4 linked regions of the Homo sapiens genome follow. The protein of the gene in region 1 purifies or fractionates together with the protein of each later gene. This does not show direct contact. Each region holds a gene or a part of one and is shown in the gene's direction. Other genes may lie near its edges.

Region 1 (4,253 bases):
TGTGTTGGGCACTGTCATTGTGAAAATAGACCTGTGAAAGCTGAGTGGGCTCATATCTTTTGTCCTATCTTGATAGACACAAGCTGGATGTTGTTTCCTGTGGCAAGTCCACAGTCCGAGTGCAGAAGGCCATCTGCAGTGGGTTCTTCCGTAATGCTGCCAAGAAAGACCCGCAGGAGGGTTACCGGACACTGATCGACCAGCAGGTGGTCTATATCCATCCTTCCAGTGCCCTCTTCAACAGACAGCCAGAATGGTAGGTGGACATGTCCCAGGGTCTAGGGGCTTTTCTGGGCAGAGAAAAACCTGTAAATTTCCTGGTATTTTGTGATTGTGTCTTCACTACTCCCAGTATGTCCTAGTATAACACTGCTTGCCTTTCTAGAGCAGCAGAAACCTGAATTAGGCACAATGTATCAAACCCTATGAGAGAATTAAAATCATAGGGGTGAGACCTAGTTGAAAAAAAAAATTGTGGTTTAAAAAACTACGTAGTGGCCAGGCACAGTGGCTCATGCCTGTAATCCCAGCACTTTGGGAGGCTGAGGTGGGCAGATCAGCCGAGGTCGGGAGTTCAAGACCAGCCTGACCAACATGGAGAAACCCTGTCTCTACTAAAAATACAAAATTAGCCAGGTATGGTGGCGCATGCCTGTAATCCCAGCTACTTGGGAGGCTGAGACAGGACAATCGCTTGAACCCAGGAGGTGGAGGTTGCAGTGAGCCGAAATCACCCATTGCACTCCAGCCTGGGCAACAAGAGCGAAACTCCATCTCAAAAAAAAAAAAAAAAAAAAACCAACTACCTAGGGGCTAGGCATGGTGGCTCACGTCTGTAATCCCAGCACTTTGGGAGGCCGAGGCAGGTGGATCACCAGAGGTCAGGAATTCCAGGCCAACCTGACCAACATAGTGAAACCATGTCTCTACTAAAAATACAAAGTTAGCCAGGCGTGGTGGCAGGCACCTGTAATCCCAGCTACTTGGGAGGCTGAGACATGAGAATAGCTTGAACCCGGGAGGCAGAGGTTGCAGTGAGCTGAGATTGTGCCATTGTACTCCAGCCTGGGAGACAGAGTGAGACTCCGTCCCAAAAAAAAAAAAAAAAAGAAAGAAAAAAACAACTACCTAGTGATGTAGTTTAAAAAAAAAAACTTGTTTTAAAGTAGCATTTTTAAAAAATTGGACTCTATCTAGAACCCTAATATAAAACTGATTTAAAACCACCATGTTATCACAGTAGAAGGGTTAGAAATGTGGCTCCTTGCATGTTTGGCCTTCTCCATCCCTTGTGGCAGTGTGAGGCCCCTCTTCAGAGCCCTAGAATTCTGTGGAAACATTCTAATAAACATCCTCACATTTTATAGAGCAAGAAACAGATTAGAGAAGGGATGTGATTGGCTCCATGTCACTTAACTAGTTAGAGCCAGAGCCAGGACTAGAATACATTCTCCTGAGACCTTTCTTGTGGTTAGAGGTGTGCGGGTGCTTCAGTATTGGGGTGTGGCTGTCATAAACAGACTGCAGTCTTATAGGTGTCAGGCAGGAGAGGTAATAGTATAAAATGTAAGCTCAGCTGAGGCCTACTAGGGACCAGGTTGACTGTAGAGTGGGGCCTATATCCAGAGGCTTGAGTACTATCTCTGTCCCCCCTCAGGGTGGTGTACCATGAGCTGGTGCTCACCACCAAGGAATACATGCGTGAAGTTACCACCATCGACCCTCGGTGGCTTGTGGAGTTTGCCCCAGCCTTCTTCAAGGTCTCAGACCCAACTAAGCTAAGCAAACAGAAGAAGCAACAGCGTCTTGAACCCTTGTACAACCGCTATGAGGAACCCAATGCCTGGAGAATATCTCGAGCTTTCCGACGGCGCTGAAAGGCAAGATTGTTCCTTTGCCTCTCCAGCAGCAGTAGCCAGGGCTTGGACTTATCGATGACAGGCTGGTCCTGAGGATACAGCTGTCCCGTGACTGACTGTCTTAACTGAGCATTTTCTCAACTCGACTCTCATTTCTTCCCTGCTGGTAAAATAGAAACAGGGATTTAAACCTGGCTTTGGCAAGAGCCTGCAGCCTCCATCACCCCAAGTCCTTGGGCCCAGTTGGGAGCTCATATCTAACACAGAGACACATTGCATCAACTTCAAGAAAGGGACAATTTGTGCAGCTCCAGGATGGGAAGGTGGAGTGGGTGAGCATCTTGTGCAGGGACATGGTGAGTGCCCTGATGCCCCAGCTAGCAGGAGCTACTGTGCTCATCTAAAGTGTTTGCCCCACTTCCCACCCCGTCTCCAGCCCCTGTACTTTGGCTTGACCTCGTGGAAATATTTATTTTCTTAAGGAAACAAAAATGGTTTTCTGTGACTGTTTTCTTTTAGCCGAAAGGTTAGGATATTGGCCTGGGCTCAGGGTGAGGGAGATTTAGTATCTGTGCTCTGGCACACATGATGAGAATCCCCTGAATCCCCTGAAACCAGAACGCAGGGCCTCTTTGCGCTCGGAAACGACGTACAACCCAGACTTCCAGCCTTGTCTTTCAGCATCAGCACTAGCCGGGCCGTGCTGGGGGATCACCCGATGATCAACCATGTCCTCTCCACAGAGCACTTCAGTCTGGAGGCCTGAGTGGCTACAGATGGCACATATTAAATACAGAAGGTTTCCCCTTGCTCCCTCCACCTCCCACATTCGCAATGTGCAGCATGTCCCATTTCCTTTTGAAACATACTAAGTAACAACACAGCTTTTATTTTATTTTGTTTTTATTTTTTTCCCCTGAGGTCCTGGATGGACTTTAACAAAGGGATTTTATGGTCAAAACCTCCCTTTCCCCACTCCAAACAGAAAACAAACATAACACCTCTCCTCTCAGCTGGTTTGTGCTGCCAGTATCTGTGCTGCAGGGCTTGTTCTTAGTGGTTTTTTCCTAGCACTTGCTTGGAGAATAGCCACCTCCTTGTGCCCTCCTCACAGCTCCTGAGGAGGGTTTTTTTTTTTTCTTCCCATAGAGATGGGTTCCCACTGTGCTGCCCAGGCTGCTCTCCAATCCCTGGCGTCAAGCAATCCTCCTGCCTCTGCCTCCCAAAGCGCTGGGATTACAGTTGAGAGCCACTGTCCTCTGCACTGAGGAGGCTCCTTACCTGGCGGAACATCAGGCAGGTCTTGCCAGGCCAGGTTTCGGAACTTACGGAAAGCTGGTCTGGATGTAGTGCTTGTAGAGAAGCTTCTGAGAGATTGGGCACATCCTGTTACGTTGCTGCTTCTCCTGTCCTTATGTTATTAGTAAGTTCTGAAGTGATGTAAATGCTAGAACTACTGTAGAACTGTATGCCAGACACTAAGAGAGACTATGTAACATTCCAGGATATAAAGGAATGTATGTTGTCACTGGGCAGCAAACCACACCCTAAAGACAATTCAGAAAGAGTCCGAGGGAGAGGAATATAGGCCAGGCAATCTGCTGGCTGCAGATCCCTGCCCCTTCATTAAGCTGAGTGCCTCCTGATTCTGTCTGAGTATTCGCCTTTGTAAGCCCAGGCCAGTAATCAAGGGGCAGGGCATTGTTGTGTGTTAACCTTGAAGGCCTTCTGGGGAGAGACAGTACAGGGACCTCAAATGAAACCAAAGGGGAAACGGGGACTGGGCACCCACCTCCCCAATCTCGTTTTGTTTTTGTTTTTGTTAAGACAGGATCTTGCCATCTTGCCTAGGCTGGCATCAAACTCCTGAGCTCAAGTGATCTTCCTGCCTCAGCCTCCTGAGTAGCTGGGACTACAGGTGCATGCCACCACACCTGGCTCCCAGTCCTAATTCCAGCCTAAATTTTCCCCATTCAGAAACACTCCTGGATATAGTGGCCCAGCCTGTCCTGACTGAGTGCCCAGCACTGACAATGTTGACACCTGGGGAGGGAGGGTTGGGTTTCAAGCTGAGGTTGAAAAGGGATGTTGAATGGGCTAAGGATAAGAGACAGCAGGGTTCGTTATCTTTTCTGGCTCAGGTGGAGGAAAAAGAAGGATCCCCATTCTGTGGGTGTTCCTTGACCATCTCTCTACGCTAGAGCTGAGGTCACTTCTCTGCTATGACAACATAGCTGGGTTCTGACCTTTTGACCATCAGGAAAGCAATGTCAGCAGCTGAGCTGAGCCTGCTCTGAGGGAGAAGGGGGGGGTCCTGTCCAGATGCAGAAGGGGAGCTTGCCTGCTGCTCTCACACAATGGAGCCCTTGTTTCTCTTCCTTGAACCAGTATTTC
Region 2 (7,623 bases), on another chromosome or scaffold:
AAAAAGTGGCAGTGTATATGCAACTAATGGCATCACAGGTGCAATAAAATATTTTCTTATCCTTTTGCCATATCCACTTTTACAAATCTTCAATCCTCAACCTAAATCATTTAACTTCTCAGGTTAAAAATGTCACATCCCAAACAAATTCTCTTTCCCTGCAAACCACTTTCACTATCCCTAGACATCCACTATGTGACATTCTCATCTTAATATTTAATTAGGTCTTTCAATCTTAATAGGGCCAAAATCCAACTTTTGATTTTCTACCAATTCATCCTGTTTGTTCTTCTTCTGAGAATGGCAATTCCATTCTTCTGGTTCCTCAGACTAGGAATCTCTGTAGTATCCTTCCACTCAGCTGCCTTGTTAACACTACACATCCAATTTATGAGCAAATCCTATTGGGTTCAATTTAAAACATATACCTAGAATTCACCTTTCTCACTATCTCCGCCATTACTACTCTAGTTCAAGCCATCATCTCTTCTCTAGAATATTACCATAGCATTCTAGGTTGTCTCCCTGCTTCTTCCCTTGTACACTTAGTTCTTCTCCTGCTGCTCAAAAACCTCCAGTGCCTTCCCAATTTACTCAGAATAAAACTCCAAGACTTTATTACAGCCTACATGATCCTTCATGATCTGCCTTCTCCCCAGCTATGCCACTGACTTAATCTCCACTCTCCCTCACCCAATTTACTCAGTCTCCCTAGCATCCCTGTGCTCCTCAAAAATGAAAGGCAAGCTCCTATCTCAGGAACTTAAAGAGTCCCTGCTCACCCTCATATCCTTCTGATTTTTTTTTTTTTGAGACGGAGTTTCACTCTTATCACCCAGGCTGGAGTGAAGTGGCGCGATCTCAGCTCACCGCAACCTCCGCCTCCCGAGTTCAAGCGATTCACCTGCCTCAGCCTCCTGAGTAGCTGGGACTACAGCCCATCACCATGCATGGCTAATTTTTGTATTTTCAGTAGAGATGGGGTTTCACCATGTTAGCCAGGATAGTCTCAATCTCCTGACCTTGTGATCTGCCAGCCTCAGCCTCCCAAAGTGCTGGGATTACAGGCGTGAGCCACTATGCACGGCCTCCTTCTGATTTCTTCTTTGTTTTTTCTATCTAAAATATTACACCTCTTTATTTTCTGCTTTATTGTTCCTCTAGTGCTCATCACCATCTGACATTATTACACAGTTTTATCTGTCTCCTCCCATTAGAATGCAAGCTCTGTGAAAACAAAGTCTCCATTTTTGTCTACTACTGTTACCTCCAACACCTTAACAGGGCATGGCATATGATAGAAACTCAGTAACTTGAAGCTGCATGAATCAAAAACAAACAACAAAAAAAAAAAACAACATACAATCCGTACTCCTTACCAGCAGTACTATCCTCTAAAGCTACCCAAGGCAGTTATCGATGCCTCCTTCCTCATTTTGAGGGTTGCTGTTTCTACATTTTATTAAAATTCTAAGGTCTCCTTCCAATTTTTGGAGTTTTCCATTTTCAACCCTATATAATCTTCTACCTCATTTTTCTGCCATCTATCTTGTCCCCTTCAAGTCCAAGCTCCACACCAACAGAGTAAGATTCCTAAAGTGTAAATGTGATCTAGTCATTTCCTTTCTTAAAACTTTAAATGACTCCCATCATCCAAAAATAAAGTCAGCAACAGATGCACCTCTTTTTCTTATTGTGTGAGATCTTACATGATCACCTGAATGCCCGGGTTGAGTTGAAAGATTCCCCCTCTTCCTTATACATATTTGCCTCTTCCTTATACATATTTGTCTTACTCACTTTATAACCCTGCCTCTGGGAGCCTTTCTTGATTCCTCAGCCCCTTCTTTGTACTTCTAAACCTGTTGATTCTGCAAATATTTACGTGGCCAATTATGAACCAAACAAAGCATTAGATGCTGGGTATACAATGTTGTTTTTGGTGTTAAAGAACTTAGATTATACTGGAGGATACAAACTAGCCAAGTAGATTGTTAGAACACAATGTTGATTAAATGCTATGATGGAACAAGGTATTTGGGACTTAAAAACATTCCTTGAAGAGACAATATATAAATTAGACCTGATAGTTGAGCTAGAATTAGCTAAAAAGGAAGAGAAGGAAGAATGTTTTAGAGAGTGGAAACAGCACTTGCTGCTCCAAGGTTGAGAGCTTGGTAAATGAAGCTGGTTCCACAACATTGTCTCCCTGTTAAAACCCAGGTAACATTATGTCTCCAGTTGTAATTCAGGTATGTACTTTTTCTTCTCCATCAAATTACTCTTTAAGAGCCATATCTTGCTCATCTTTCTACATCACCACTTCCCTCCAAGTCCTGCAATACTTAACAAACCTAAATTATTTTTTCCAGATGTTCGGAATAGAAACTTTTATAATCTCAATTGTAATTCTTTCCAGTGACATGTTTCATTTCTTGTTTAGATTCTTACAAGCTAACTATTAAAGGCGGTGAAATGTAATTTATTAACACAATCTATTACTTACCGTTCTCTTTCTCCAGTTTCTATCAACTTTTGGTTAATCGCTGCTCTCATCTGCGCATCTTTGTTCATCTTGCTAACCTGGACATCAACATGTACTTTCAGATATAGAACATTTACAAAGCATTTTCTGCTAAATCCTCTAGGCAGGCATCCTAACATGTTTACCATTCTATTAACTGAAGGGGTGATACATTTCAAGTGTGTTAATAATATCATTACTCTTTATTAAACACTTATGTGCTTGGCACTGGGCTAATGCAGTGTGGGTTTGCTTTTTTTTAAACATCACATTTAATTCCCAGAACGTATTGTTACATATTTATATTAATAAAATAATCTGTATTTTACTGATGAGGAAACTGAGGCACAGAGATAGAAAGTGGAAAGGCAAAATTTGAACTCAAGTACTTTGACCCTAGGAGCTCCAAAACTGAACATAACTGCCGATCACTTCTGCAGAGACTGCATCCAAAAATTGGGAGAAGTCATACATACTAAACATCAAAAAAAGATTAAATACTATTAGTAAAAAAATAAAATTACCAGGCCGGGCACAGTGGGTCACACCTGTAATCCCAGCACTTTGGGAGGCCCAGGCAGGTGGATCACGAGGTCAGGAGTTCAAGACCAGCCTGACCAAGATGGTGAAACCCCGTCTCTACTAAAAATAGAAAAATAAGCTGGGCTTGGTGGCAGGTGTCTGTAATCCCAGCTACTCAGGAGGCTGAGGCAGGAGAATCGCTTGAACCCAGGAGACAGAGGTTGCAGTGAGCCGACATTGCGCTGCTGCACTCCAGCCTGGGTGACAGGGCAAGACTCTGTCTCAAAAAAAAAAAAAAAAATTAATTAATCAAAAAAAATAAAATTACTAGATAAGGCTCTAAGTGTTTTGCTTTACTCTTCACTAGGATGAACCCACAATTACAACTGCTAAACCTAAGTGTGTGGATGTGTGTGTTTACACACACACTGCTGGTGGGATAAGAAGAAAACAAATCTCAAACTAATTCCTAACTTACAAAGTCCTCAATTGTCAGTAAAAACAGACAACCCAAACCAAAATGATGTTGAAAGAAGAGGAAAGTTAGGTTTTGAAAGCGTTAAAGCCACTTAAAAGTTTAAATTAAATAAAACTTGGCGTAAACTAACGTTTTCCCACCTAATCTGTCACTAACTTGAGATTACTTTTGTTGTCTTCCATCTGGCCTATTGAAAATTCAGACTGGCAATGAGTTACCAGAGTTGATTTTTTTTTTCTTTTTTGAGAGGAACAGGGAAAAGGAGAAGTTGAGTGAGAACTAGGAAATGCTTGCTTTTGTAATTGGAGGCTAACATTTTCAAAATAACTACAAGGTCTAGTCAGTACCACTCCTGGAATATTGAACTTGATCTCGTCTTGGCTCCTAAAATACGGATAGTGACCTTGGACAAGTCACTTAATTCTTAAAGGCCTCAGTTTTCTCACTGGTAAAACAAGGGCGCTAGGGTATCCCTCCCAGTTCAGACATTCTTAGGGAAAATAGAACAGGGCGGAGACAGCGGGAGAGGCGGGAGAGGAGGAGCCAGAAAACAAAGCGAGGACTGGTTTCAGGCCAACTCCGGTAGCACGCCCTGTCGGAGAGCCCTACAGGCCCGCGAGCGCGGGTCGGGGACGCTAACGAAAGACAGTACATCGAAAGGAGCCTGGGCTGGGCCCGGGTCCCGGCCCTGAGGACCACGGGCATAGCTCACCACCATCACCGCGGGCGAGGGCCGTCCCTTCCCAGCGACGAAATGACCCTTGCGCTGAGGACCGTTACCTACCACACTCTTCGGCTGCCCGGACTTAGACCCTCAGTAGCTCGGGCACCTAAGCACACAGAAAGCTAGAACACGCATTTCCGGGGCGGGGTCTCGCCACCCTGCCTATAATGTGAGAATTTAACCAGCGCGGGCCGCCTCCTGGTTGCTAGGGCCTCTGGGTAACAGAGTTCAGACCTTGCCGTCGCGCGCGCGTTAAGTACCAGGAGAACTACATAGCCCAGCATGCAACAGTCTCAACTTTTTCACGGACACTACATTTCCCAGAAGGCAGTTCGCACCGCAGTGTTTTCTGGGATGGGAACCACGCCGCTTCCCAGTCTCTGTGCGAGGCGTGAAGCGCGGACCTTTCAACAAGGGCTTTATTAATTCTCACGCTGCGGCCCTGGAAAGCGATGGAGGTGGCGGCTAATTGCTCCCTACGGGTGAAGAGACCTCTGTTGGATCCCCGCTTCGAGGGTTACAAGCTCTCTCTTGAGCCGCTGCCTTGTTACCAGCTGGAGCTTGACGCAGGTGGGAAGCGGCGGCGCCCTTCGTACTCCGTTCCTTTCCCCTTTCGGCTGCCTCCGGCCTGACCCTTCCCGCAATTTCTTTCTTTCTGACTGGCAAGCGAAGCCACCGTGGCGGCTTGCGTGGACTCACGGAGGCCGCTGCTTCTGGGGAATGATGCCCATCCCAGAACCCGGTGGGAGCCGCCTTCGCGCGCTCTTCGGTAACGGGACCCTGGGCCCCCTCCGTCAGCAGCCCAGCCTCTGAGGTCTGAGGTCTGAGGGCTGGCGTGCGGGTAGTGCCTGGGGCTCTGGCTGCTGTGTGTCCACAGCCTGGCTTCTGTTTCGGGGGACGCTGAGAACATTCCTTCCTCCTGGAGCATCGCTTGTGAACGTGTGCGTTGAGAAACCACACCTCCTTGGAGGACCCCCAGTTCCTGTTTCCTCTGACCGAGAGCCGTTTCTTAGAAGAGAAACTACATTCCAGTCATAGCATTTTTAATTACTCAGTTCCTGGCACATTAAGAACTCTGGTAGAGAACATCTCTAGAAGATAGTGAGGAAAAGTGGATTTACTCCCACACTGCTACTCCTTGCTTTATCTGTAGCTGGTAGAATATCCTTACTCTTGTTTTTACAACTTAACGGCATTTTCGTTATGATAGAGCCCAGAGATCTGCATTTTAAAATTCACACCCCTGCTGATTCTGATGCATGTTTTCAGAGATCACACTTTGAGAAATAGTGATCTACAGTTAATTATAATAACAGACATTAAAGTATAAAATAAGTTTATGCTAATTGATTTATTAAATTCAGAAATATTTACCGAGTACCTGTTTTGTGTTACGTCCTGATAATATCAAAATGAACAAGACACCTTCCGTAACAAAAGAGGACTATTAGCTAGTTAGGAAGAAAATTGTAAACAGATAATTGTAAAACAATATGGGAAGGCAGTGATAGGGATATGTACAAAATACAATGGTAGTACTTGAATATCTTTCCTAAACTAGTCTGGGGATCTGGGAAGGCGTCTTGGAGGAGTTAATATCTAAGTTGAGCTTTGAAGGGTAGGTTAAGAGTTGACTAGGATGAGAGAGGATAAGCTTGATTTTTCTTTTTATTTTTTTCCTTTTCCTCTTTGCCACCGTGTTTCTTCCAGTCACCCCATGTCAGTAGATGGTATCACCATGTTTAGTTAGTGCATTAGAAAGTGAAGCCAAAATTCAGTGTCTCAAAACAAGAAGCAGTTATTATTGCTCACAAGTCTACGGGTCAGCTGAGTGGTTCTTCTAGTCCTAGTTGGGCTCATTGATGCATCCTTGTTCAGTAATGGATCTGCTGGGAAGCTCTGCTCATTTGGCTGGACTTCCTCATATGTTTGGAGGGTGGGGGTAGGGTCTCAGACTATAAGCTTGTTTAAGATTCTTTCACATGGTCTCCTCTTGACTTTTCTCCGTGTGGTCTCTTATCCTTTAGCCGACTAGACTAGCCCAGGTTGGTACCAAGAGACACTTGTGCCAGAGTCATTTGGGGTTTATTTCTTTTAGCCACTGTCTGCTTGGTAGCAAGTCCGGTCAGCTCCACATTTTGATATCTCTAGGCCTCCACCCTAATCCAAATCAGAGTTATCTCTTACCTGAACTCTAGTAGCCTCCTGACTAGCCTTCCTGCCTTCACTTTTGGGCTTCGTCATTGCATTCTCCATAAGACGTACTTATCGGCCTTTTAAATTCTATCTTGATTTGTTGTCTGTTTCCTCCACTAGACTATGAGTTCCTTGAAAACAGTGATGTTTTTCTTTTGTTCACTACCCTATATCTAGTGCTTGGCACATAGGATGTATTCAATAAAATGAGTATATGAAGAAGAGAAGAAATTGTTGAGGTCATTCCATTCATGGGAAAGCATGAGGAAAGGGAAATAATTAGTAGGTTGTATGCTGGACATCCTTGCACTCTTATATTGCTGGAGCAAAACGTCTGGGAAAGTGAGAGGAAATAAATCAGTGAGGGCCTTGTTTGCCTTTTGGATTTCTTGGATTTCCGGTCATTCAGTGTTTCCCTGACATTTTTGTATTGAGCCATTACAATATAAAATAAAACTCAGCTGCTGTAGTTCTGCCAACTTTTCTGTTTACTAGGTGGAGATGTTTCTTAAAAACTATCATTTACTCATCTATCTTTTCATAAACAAAAGGATATTTTAACACCAAAAAAGCAGGAAGCAAAATCTCACAATAAACAATCCATTGAATACTTTAACTTTAGAAAAAATTCACAAAGTTGTCCTTGTTCCGTACTCATTTCATCAGCGTTAATCTTAGATTCTGTGTTTGGGATGTACAGCTGCAGGATATCAGGTGCCATTTGAAGATTTTTTTTTTTTTTTTTTTTTTTGAGTCTGAGTCTTGCTCTATTGCGGAGGCTGGACTGTAGTAGTGTGATCTCGTCTCATTGCAACCTCTGCCTTCCGGGTTCAGGCGATTCTCCTGCCTCAGCCTCCCGAGTAGTTGGGATTACAGGCGCCCGCCACCATGCCCAGCTAATTTTTGTTTGTTTCTTTTTGTTTTTGTTTTGTTTTTTGAGACGGAGTCTCTGTCGTTGAGGCTGGAGTGCAGTGGCGCGATCTCAGCTCACTGCAACTTCCGCCTCCCGGGTTCAAGCAGTTCTCTGCCCCAGCCTCTGGAGTAGCTGGGATTACAAGTGCCCGCCACCAAGCCCAGCTAATTTTTGTATTAGAGACGGAGTTTTACTATCTTGGCCAAGCTGGTCTTGAACTCCTGACCTCGCGATCCACCTGCCTCGGCCTCCCAAAGTGCTGGGAT
Region 3 (7,057 bases), on another chromosome or scaffold:
GTCAAGGCTGTGCCCTTGCGGGTCAAGGCTAACCCAAAAAGTCCACAGCTGGTCTAGTCAGGACTGAGGCTGGACCAGTGGAGCCAAGGCAGGACCCACAGGGGGTTGAGCCTAACCCAGTGGGGCCAAGGCTAGACCAGTAGGAACCGGGCTGGACCAGTGGGGCTGAGGCTGGTTTGACAGGGCTTGCTTTTGCCCAAGACACTCATAAATGGGTGGGGGGGGACGCCCCGAAGCCACTGAATCGGGAGGTGGGCGTAGCCCTGCCACCCCACTGACTGCCTGAGGGGTGGCTCGGTCCCCAGCTGAGTCCTGAGAGTGCAGAGGAGTACATTGAGTACCTCAAGTCAAGTGACCGGCTGGATGAGGCCGCCCAGCGCCTGGCCACCGTGGTGAACGACGAGCGTTTCGTGTCTAAGGCCGGCAAGTCCAACTACCAGGTGGGCCTGCCGGGAGCCGGCAACTGGGTGGGAGGGCCACCCCCTCCATGACTGAGCCTGAGACTCTCCCCCACTGCCCCATGCCCTGCAGCTGTGGCACGAGCTGTGCGACCTCATCTCCCAGAATCCGGACAAGGTACAGTCCCTCAATGTGGACGCCATCATCCGCGGGGGCCTCACCCGCTTCACCGACCAGCTGGGCAAGCTCTGGTGTTCTCTCGCCGACTACTACATCCGCAGCGGCCATTTCGAGAAGGTGCATGCTGGCACACGGGGCTCTGGGTTCGGGGCGGGGTCTCCCTCCGACACTCGGGGACACATGTTGACACATGCACAGGCAGAAAACATGCCATTTATGGCTGGGTGTGGTGGCTCACACCTGTCATCCCAGCACTTTGGGAGGCCGAGGCGGTAGGATCACTTGAGGTCAGCAGTTCAAGACCAGCCTGGCCAACATGGTGAAACCCCATCACTACTAAAAATACAAAAATTAGTCAGACATGGTGGTGCGCGCCTGTAATCCCAGCTACTCGGGAGGCTGAGGCAGGAGAATCGCTTGAACTTGGGAGGTGGAGGTTGCCGTGAGCTGCGATCGCGCCACGGAAGTCCAGCCTGGGTGGCAGAGCGAGACTCCATCTCAAAAAAAAAAAAAAAAAAAAAAAGTGCCATTTTTGACAGACATGCATATCCCTGCACACGATTACTATCCTGCTGAGGGTGGGGGAGCACTCCTGCCCGCAGGCACGTCAGCCTTGGAGTCAGCCACATTTGCGTTCAGGGTTCACCCTCTGGCTCTGCGGCCTTGGCCCCACTAAGGTGGGGTGTCTTCATTTGTAAAATCAGGGTGACAGTTACTGCCTGTCACCAATCAGCTCAGTGACGCAGGCACAGCACTGAGGAGGTACGTGGTGTGAGGGCCACTCCCTCAGGGGTTAGCTGACTGTGGCTCTTGGCAGGCAGTGGAGTGGCAAGCTCAGGGGATGGCCTGGGGGCAGGTGGGTGCAGAGGGGGCCAGAGCCGAGAGCGGGGAGGCTCAGGAACCCAGGGAAGATAGGTTGGGAGCCTCGAAAGCCAAACGGGCTGGCCATGCTCCTGGCTGGGGGAGCCGCCAGTGGGGTGTGGGCGGTATGCGCTTCGCAGCGCCCCTTCCAGGGGCACGTGTAGGCCAAGGCTGTCGGAGGCAGCAGGGCAAGACCCGTCAGGGCTGGGTAGAGAGAGGGGACCTGAGCTGGGGTGGGCGAGCCAGGTGGAGGACAGGCGGGCTGGGGAAGAGGGTCAGGCAAGCGAGAGGGACGCTTTGGAGCAAATTCTGAGGCCTCGGAGGATGAGCTGAGGCGAGGGTCCCTGCAGGGTGGACCCATAGGCGCTGGGGGGTTTTTGGCCACCTATTGGGTGCCAAGTGCTTCACACATGTGTCTCAGTCGAGCCCTGAGGTCACTGTGTGCAAAGGGCAGTCACCCAGTTTACTGAGGAGGTCCTGAAGCTCCCAAGACCACCCTGGCAGTGCAGGGCAGGGCGGGGGTGAGAAGGCTCCACGGAGGCTCTGTCCTGGGGTCACTACCCAGAGGTGCTGGATGCGTCACTACCCAGAAGGCCCCCAGGGGTTCCACATTGAGGCTGGTGCTAAGAGTGCTGCTGCCTGTCCCCTGCGCCACTTTCCTCTCACCTCCCCTTCCCTGGGTCCCCACAGGCTCGGGACGTGTACGAGGAGGCCATCCGGACAGTGATGACCGTGCGGGACTTCACACAGGTGTTTGACAGCTACGCCCAGTTCGAGGAGAGCATGATCGCTGCAAAGATGGAGACCGCCTCGGAGCTGGGGCGCGAGGAGGAGGGTGAGCCTCTGGGGGCCCCGGCTGGTGGGGAGAGAGCTGAGTGGACATTAGCGGTAGGGGCGGGACACATCTCAGGTGAGGCAGCCCTGGGAGGCTCAGCTGGGGGCCAGCAGGGAAGGAGGCTGAGTGGATGCAGGGGGTGTGGGGGTCTTGAAGGAGCCAGGAATGGGGACACTTCTCAGGCCTGGGCCAGAGCCTGGCAGGGCAGGAGGGCTAGGGGAACAGTGGGGGTAGGAGGGGGTATCCACAGTACCTGGGGCTGGGGGTGGGGCTCAGGTGGACACCCGAGCTGAGTGTCTAGGGCCCAGAGCACTTGGCTGGGGGCTGGAGCGGAGTGAGGGTGGGGAGTGGAGGCGGTGGCATCCGGGGACCTGCATCCTGGGTCTCCGCCCCTGACAAACATGTTCGCGGCTCCCAGATGATGTGGACCTGGAGCTGCGCCTGGCCCGCTTCGAGCAGCTCATCAGCCGGCGGCCCCTGCTCCTCAACAGCGTCTTGCTGCGCCAAAACCCACACCACGTGCACGAGTGGCACAAGCGTGTCGCCCTGCACCAGGGCCGCCCCCGGGAGGTACATGAAGCCTGCCCCAGTCCTACCCCTGAGGGCCAGTTTCCTGCAGAACTGGGGAGCCACCCACCTTCACCCATAATGTCACCTTCTAGGGGCCTGACTTTGCTTAGTAGGTCCAATTCCACCCCTGTTCTTGGGGTTCTCCTCCTGCCCGAGCCCCGCCCCTCAGAGCCACAGTCCCTCCTGGCCCCACCCCTTGGAGGGCCACAGCTCCCTCGTGGCCCCGCCCCTTGGAGGGTCACAGCTCTCTCCTGGCCCCGCCCCTTAGGGCCACAGCTCTCTCTTGGTCCTGACCATTGTCAAGGGCCATAGTTCGTTTCTGGCCTCTCCCGACAGGGGCCACAGCACCCTCCAGGCCCCACCCCTCAGAGCCACAGCTCTGCCCCGACCGTCATCTGCAGGGTCCTGAGTCCTATATGACCTCCTCCCTCCTGTCCCCAGATCATCAACACCTACACAGAGGCTGTGCAGACGGTGGACCCCTTCAAGGCCACAGGCAAGCCCCACACTCTGTGGGTGGCGTTTGCCAAGTTTTATGAGGACAACGGACAGCTGGACGATGTGAGCACCCTGTTGCGTGTGCCTGTGTGTTCATGCATGTGTGTGTGCTTGTATATGTGTGCATGTATGTGTGTGTACATATTTGTGCATGGATGTGTGCACGTGTGTGTGCATGTGCATTTGGGTGCATGCATATGTGCACGCATGTGTGTGCCTGTGTGTGTGCCTGTGTGTTTGTGCCTGTATGTTTGTGAGCATGGTCACCTTTCTGACCCTTGATGGTGGGAGCTGTCCAGGTGGGCAGGGTCTCAGCCTCGCCTCTGCCCGCCCCGGCAGGCCCGTGTCATCCTGGAGAAGGCCACCAAGGTGAACTTCAAGCAGGTGGATGACCTGGCAAGCGTGTGGTGTCAGTGCGGAGAGCTGGAGCTCCGACACGAGAACTACGATGAGGCCTTGCGGCTGCTGCGAGTGAGAACAGGCCCAGGCTGTGGGGTGGGGGCTGCAGGTTGTAGGGCAAGGGCCAGGGACAGCCCCTGAGCGCCTCCCCGGCCACTGTCTGCCCCTGCAGAAGGCCACGGCGCTGCCTGCCCGCCGGGCCGAGTACTTTGATGGTTCAGAGCCCGTGCAGAACCGCGTGTACAAGTCACTGAAGGTCTGGTCCATGCTCGCCGACCTGGAGGAGAGCCTCGGCACCTTCCAGGTGAGCTGCCTGTGGCTGGGGAGGGACGGGGCCCCGGACTCAGCTCCAGAACCAGCTCCAACCTTTCCCATCCCCACCCCTGCAGTCCACCAAGGCCGTGTACGACCGCATCCTGGACCTGCGTATCGCAACACCCCAGATCGTCATCAACTATGCCATGTTCCTGGAGGAGCACAAGTACTTCGAGGAGAGCTTCAAGGTGAGGGGCTAGGGTGGACCCAGAGGCCCCTGATGGCAGTGTCCCCTCCCCAGGGGTCCTCAGCAACTTACGAATCTGCTGGGGCTTGTGTGACACAGTATACAGACTGGGTGACTTAAACAACAAAGATTTAGCTTCTCCCCGTCCTGGAGGCTGGAAGTCCAGGATCGAGGCATGGGCAGGGCTGGTTCCTCCTGAGGCCTCTCTCCTTAGCTTACAGACAGCCGCCTTCTCCCTATGTCTTTGTGTGGCCTTCTCTTTGTGTGTGTCACTTTTGAAATTTCCTCTTCTTATAAAGGACATCAGTCATAATGGATTAGGTGGCCCCTAACGACCTCAGTTTAACTTAGTGATCTCATCTTCAAACGAATCTACTTTCTGAGGTACTGGGGGTTAAGATTTGAGCATATGAATGTTTTGAGGGGGGCACAGTTCATTCCATAGCAGGCACAGAATCCTACTTCCACGTGCACCCATGACTCATGGGGAGGGTGTTGGTGCCAGTGTGTGCGGGCTCTCCCTGCCCCGCTGCTCAGGAGACGGGTTGTGGGGTCCAGGGGGTGGGTTGCGTGTCCGTGGGAAGGCCATGTCCCGCGGCCGGAGCAGTCATGTTTGAGTGTGTGTTTCTATGGATCGTGTGGGCATTATACAGATACACAAATGGGGAGGTCGTACATGCATACGCGTGCTACTGCCTGCCCCTCTGTCAGGGGGTGCGGCCTTCTCCCTGGGGACAGGCAGCCAGCGTCAGCGGAGCTGGGGAGCCACCCACCTTCACCCATCATGTCACCTCCTATGGGGCCAGACTGTGCTTAGCAGGTCCCATTGCACCCCTGTTCTTGGGGTTCTCACAGAGGGAGACAGTGCAGAGGACAGACCCCCACAACTGCCATTAGGGACAGGGAGGCGTGGACAGGGAAGGGCCCCAAGGGAGTTCCTGGCAGGCTCCCTACAGACGCCACCCAAGGACATCCCGGGTGCCTGGTGGTCTCTATCTGCAGACTCTCACATGTGACTCTCCCTCTGGTAACAGGCGTACGAGCGCGGCATCTCGCTGTTCAAGTGGCCCAACGTGTCCGACATCTGGAGCACCTACCTGACCAAATTCATTGCCCGCTATGGGGGCCGCAAGCTGGAGCGGGCACGGGACCTGTTTGAACAGGCTCTGGACGGCTGCCCCCCAAAATATGCCAAGAGTGAGGCGGGCAGAGGGCATGGGGGGGGTGGCGGGCGGGCTGGGTTTCTGACTGGCCCCGGCTGACCGTGCTCCCCTCTCCCCGCCTACCCCGCCCAGCCTTGTACCTGCTGTACGCACAGCTGGAGGAGGAGTGGGGCCTGGCCCGGCATGCCATGGCCGTGTACGAGCGTGCCACCAGGGCCGTGGAGCCCGCCCAGCAGTATGACATGTTCAACATCTACATCAAGCGGGCGGCCGAGATCTATGGGGTCACCCACACCCGCGGCATCTACCAGAAGGCCATTGAGGTACCCACCGTGGGGGGCTGGGCCGGGGCCAGAGGTCCCTGAGCAGACGGAAGGGGTCCAGGCAGGTGGGAGGGGCTGAGGAGGAGCCTTCTGGAAGCACAGGGATGGCCATGGTGTGTTGGGAGCCCCCGAGCTACCCCGGCCTCACTCCCGGCCTCCCCAACCCCGGTGTCCAGGTGCTGTCGGACGAGCACGCGCGTGAGATGTGCCTGCGGTTTGCAGACATGGAGTGCAAGCTCGGGGAGATTGACCGCGCCCGGGCCATCTACAGCTTCTGCTCCCAGATCTGTGACCCCCGGGTAGGGCTGTGGGGAGGGACGGGTATCAGGGTTGGGGGCTGCGGCGGAGTCAGCCAGCTCACGGGCACACACACCCACCCCTGCCCTGCCCCCCACGCAGACGACCGGCGCGTTCTGGCAGACGTGGAAGGACTTTGAGGTCCGGCATGGCAATGAGGACACCATCAAGGAAATGCTGCGTATCCGGCGCAGCGTGCAGGCCACGTACAACACGCAGGTCAACTTCATGGCCTCGCAGATGCTCAAGGTCTCGGGCAGTGCCACGGGCACCGGTGAGCCGTCCCAGCTGGCTGAGTTCCTGATCCAGGGCATCTCAGCCCGGCCTGACCTGGGCTTTCCGGGTCTGGGAGCCTCGGATCCTGATGGCAATCTCCTTGAGGGCTGGGCCATCACCTGGGGGACTGGGATAGTGCAACGTCCGATGTGTGGGAGGGGCCCCCGTGGCGCTGACCCCCTGCTCCCACCCCCTAGTGTCTGACCTGGCCCCTGGGCAGAGTGGCATGGACGACATGAAGCTGCTGGAACAGCGGGCAGAGCAGCTGGCGGCTGAGGCGGAGCGTGACCAGCCCTTGCGCGCCCAGAGCAAGATCCTGTTCGTGAGGTGAGGGCGGATCCTTGGACGGGACAGGACTGGGACAGGTCCCAAGGGGGCCCGGGGTGGGGAACTGAGGCAGCATGGCCCGTCCCTAGGAGTGACGCCTCCCGGGAGGAGCTGGCAGAGCTGGCACAGCAGGTCAACCCCGAGGAGATCCAGCTGGGCGAGGACGAGGACGAGGACGAGATGGACCTGGAGCCCAACGGTGAGGGCCCGGCTGGGGCGGGGACGGTGGCATTACCAGGGTGGGCCTCGGGGGACAGGCCAACGCCAGGAGGGTGACTGGCTCCCGCCTTCCCCACAGAGGTTCGGCTGGAGCAGCAGAGCGTGCCAGCCGCAGTGTTTGGGAGCCTGAAGGAAGACTGACCCGTCCCTCCCCCATCCCCCCTCCCCACCCCCTCCCCAATACAGCTACGTTTGTACATCATGGTCT
Region 4 (3,518 bases), on another chromosome or scaffold:
ATCACTCTTGCCTAGATGAGTGACCATACTTTTTTCTTTGCTGCTTGGTTTTTCTATCACTAAAAAGCAAATTTAGGTGGAAGATGGATGGGTAAGTCCTTTGTCCTTGTCAAAAGAATTTAGAAAGGGTAAAGGTGGTGGGATTTGAATTCTTTTAAACGGTTTATTCATTGGAAAGGCAAGTGAGTGGCAGTTGACTGTAGAATCTTGGGAATTTTTGAAGGAATTTAAGAGCTGTACTTATTTTAAATAATGAGGAAACAATCAGAGAGACTTAACCAGGGTGGCAACTATGGAAGAGTGGGGGTAGAATCCAAGTCTACAGTTCTACGGCACTGCTTTGTTTATTTTTTCAATCAAGCACACATGAGGGATTGCTTAATAAATTCAAGAGTTTTCTATATAGTTTGGGATTACTACAGACACAGGTACTCTAGCCATGTGACTATTTCAGATTAGTGTTCCCATTGCTCTCCATCCTATTTTTCATATCTAAATGTGTCATGATTTTAGAATCTCTTTGTAAAGAAAACCAAAAAGAGCCATGCCCAAAAGAATGAGCATGAAATGAAGCAATTCAAGTATTTAGAATTTCTTCTTCTTTTTTTTTTTTTTTTTTCAAAATTCTGAGTTAAGAAAGTTCATTGCCAACAGTTGAGGATAAATAGCTCTATTGATTTAGGCAAATGAATGAGAAGATTTAAACATCATCAAGACTCCCAAAGTTGGTGTAATAAAAGTTGAGATGTTTTGCTAGATGCTGAGAGAAAAGGCATAAATAGGCCATTTGTGCTCCTGTAAACAAATGAAATTTTGTAATGATCAAGAGACAGCAAGATATTATAAAACACACTTTGGACTCATCGAGACCTGGCTCAGAGTTGTACCTAATTTGCTTATCAGCATTTGGTTAGACCTTAGACAAATTTTATAACCTCTCTAAGCCCATTTTCTTTATCTGTAAATAAAGGAAAAAGATCTGTTTGGATTTGGGACAGGAGAGTTGTCTGTTTTATAGGGTAATGTTTATGAAAATAATTTATCACCTAGGTACTTAGTAAATACCAGTTTCTGTCTCTGTTTTTCTTCAAAGCTTTGTTGACAATGTAGGATATTGCCAACTAATCCTTTGACTTGAGTGCTTAGCCATGCCCCAATCCAGGCAGCATGAAGAATGATCAAGAAGGGGACACCTAGTGGCAGTTGACCTTTGAGGATCTATCTAGGATCAGGTTACTGATTTGGGACCTCTGAATCAGTACATCATAACATCGAGAGTGATCTCTGCCAAAATTAAAATTCTGTCAGAACAGTATAAGCAGAAGGAAGACATTAGGTCTTTCTGAAATATGGAGCTGATAACTTCTATCAGTTCTGAATTCTGTACTGTCCCACCCCCAAATCATCTATATTGTTGCATGTGCTTAGCTTTGTGCCTTGAATTGCTATTTCCTTTTTATCTTGCACTCAGATGGTATTTTTAGAGATGTTTCTTCAATCAAAACAAGATAAAGTTAAAAAAAAAAAAAAAACAGTGACCCTTTTGCATAAGCCAGAAGAGCAGTGCCTTGCTTCCTGTGAAAAATGCTTGGCAGTTAGCCTGTGTAATTATTTAGCAATCATGTTAATAGATGTTTAAGAATAATGGAACTGGAGCTGTACTGAGCCAAGGATGGAAATGAAGACATGTGAGACTATTTTTTCTTCATCCACCGATACTCTTCAGTTACAAGGATTTAATTTAAAAGGGTTTTAATTAAATGGAATCCAGAAGCTTTGGACGCTCCAGTTTTTCTTCTTAGAGACAAACCCTAGCTCAGTTTCCTGGAGCTTGACTCAGAATGCAGCATGGTACTCCGGACTGACAGTGTGCCAGCTTTATTCACTTATCTCTCTACCTTTTGGCTTGCGTTTATTTCAGGGCTGCCTGACATTTTGACCTTATGTACAAAGATGGCCGATACGATTATTTTTCATCATATATTACAGAAAATACTACTCTTGAAAAATACTCTGAGAAATATGTTCTATGGTCAGATAAGTTTGGGAAACAGTGAATTATTGTTCCTCCTTTGCAGAATCACAATGCACTGTTAGCTAATTAAAGACTCTCAGATGTCCCACTGGAAAGAATCATGTTTAGCTTTGTTTAACCTAGCATTTCCCAAACTTATTAGAGCATAAAACTTTGTTTTTGTTTTTTTTTAATAAGATAGGTAGCTATTTCCTTAGAACACAGTTTGGGAAACTTTTTGTTCATTTGTTTTAATAAGATACCTTAGGTAGCTATTTCCTTAGAACACGAGCCGGGTGCAGTGGCTCACGCCTGTAATCCCAGCACTTTGGGAGGCCCAGGCGGGCGGATCACCTGAGGTCAGGAGATCGAGATCATCCGGCCCAACATGGTGAAACCCCGTCTCTACTAAAAAGACAAAAATTAGCCAGCCATGGTGGCAGGCACCTGTAGTCCTAGCTACTGTGGAGGCTGAGGCAGGAGAATCACTTGAACCCGGGATGGGGAGGTTGCAGTGAGCTGAGATGGCGCCACTGTACTCCAGCCTGGGCGACGAGCAAAAACTCCTTCAAAAAAAAAAAAAAAACATAACTTAGGTAGCTATTTCCTTGGGAACCAATATCTTTACATTGGCTAGAACTGTGAATCGCCCTTTAAAGATAAAGCCCCAAAATACATTTTTTTTCCCTACAGGTAACCAGAGGGTGAAGTAACAGCCGAAGAGGAAACCAGAAGTGAAGTGATTTGTACAAAATGTCGTAGTGTAATTTATTGAGTGTCATGTGGTATTAATCGCAACATCCTGAAAATGCAAATGAATAAAAGTTTGGTCAATGTACCATGACATTCCTTCATGTGAGCCTCCTAAGAAAAGGTCACTGAGCATTCTCTGTTTACATTTTAATTTTAGACTCCAGAATTTCACACTAAGTTTTTCTTCTCATTTCTTATGCAGTAAAAGAAGAGTTTGTATTTCCAATGTGTCTGGCTTTCTGTTCTTTAGTTTTTGTTTCCTTAAAAAGTTTAAACTCCAAAAAGAGAAAAGGATTACTTAGCATAACCAATAGAGGTGGTCTGGAAATAATAAAAGAAAATGAAGGCAAATATAAAACATGAAGACAGTTTCCTCGCATAAGAATATTTAACACACAAGGACCCCAGCAGTTACTTTGCATTAAGCATACTGAATTCTTTCTTGATCTCCAGAATAACTGTCCCCACAATCCTCTTCCCCTCTACCTTTGATTTAACATTGTGCACTCTCTCTATTATACTTATCTTTGTGTTGCAACCTAAGTTCAAGAACCTCAAAGGTAGCTGCTTCTCTTTGAAAGATGCCTGGTTTAATATAAAAAGCTCTTTTAAGAGCTGAATTTATTGACATTTTTCGAAAAACAGTTCTGGATGGGAAGTGATCCTTTTCTACTTTAGTTCACTGGTTCATTTGGGCCATTTTTGATTGGTTGGTTGGTTGGTTGCTTAGTTTTTTCCATCTGGTTTCTAG

Evidence for each region.
Region 2: the proteins of DHX8 (region 1) and NUDCD1 purify together in Homo sapiens (affinity purification with mass spectrometry; 5 studies listed by BioGRID and IntAct, with this or other methods). This does not show direct contact.
Region 3: the proteins of DHX8 (region 1) and XAB2 purify together in Homo sapiens (affinity purification with mass spectrometry; 4 studies listed by BioGRID and IntAct, with this or other methods). This does not show direct contact.
Region 4: the proteins of DHX8 (region 1) and AQR purify together in Homo sapiens (affinity purification with mass spectrometry; 4 studies listed by BioGRID and IntAct, with this or other methods). This does not show direct contact.

The regions. Positions count from the first base shown.
Region 1 is NC_000017.11:43,521,971-43,526,223, forward strand, and holds the end of DHX8 (ATP-dependent RNA helicase DHX8), read left to right. Parts: intron 1-76; coding exon 77-256; intron 257-1,657; coding exon 1,658-1,877; 3' UTR 1,878-3,700; downstream 3,701-4,253.
Region 2 is NC_000008.11:109,331,088-109,338,710, reverse strand, and holds the start of NUDCD1 (nudC domain-containing protein 1), read left to right. Parts: upstream 1-4,623; 5' UTR 4,624-4,700; coding exon 4,701-4,818; intron 4,819-7,623. Other genes in the region: transcription and mRNA export factor ENY2, read right to left, coding at 2,507-2,583, 4,237-4,242.
Region 3 is NC_000019.10:7,619,519-7,626,575, reverse strand, and holds the end of XAB2 (pre-mRNA-splicing factor SYF1), read left to right. Parts: intron 1-305; coding exon 306-440; intron 441-531; coding exon 532-696; intron 697-2,130; coding exon 2,131-2,275; intron 2,276-2,693; coding exon 2,694-2,845; intron 2,846-3,286; coding exon 3,287-3,406; intron 3,407-3,682; coding exon 3,683-3,814; intron 3,815-3,914; coding exon 3,915-4,046; intron 4,047-4,131; coding exon 4,132-4,245; intron 4,246-5,278; coding exon 5,279-5,441; intron 5,442-5,539; coding exon 5,540-5,730; intron 5,731-5,906; coding exon 5,907-6,029; intron 6,030-6,129; coding exon 6,130-6,301; intron 6,302-6,500; coding exon 6,501-6,630; intron 6,631-6,719; coding exon 6,720-6,829; intron 6,830-6,928; coding exon 6,929-6,990; 3' UTR 6,991-7,051; downstream 7,052-7,057. UniProt on the Homo sapiens protein: Involved in pre-mRNA splicing as component of the spliceosome. Involved in transcription-coupled repair (TCR), transcription and pre-mRNA splicing.
Region 4 is NC_000015.10:34,851,257-34,854,774, reverse strand, and holds the end of AQR (RNA helicase aquarius), read left to right. Parts: 3' UTR 1-2,993; downstream 2,994-3,518.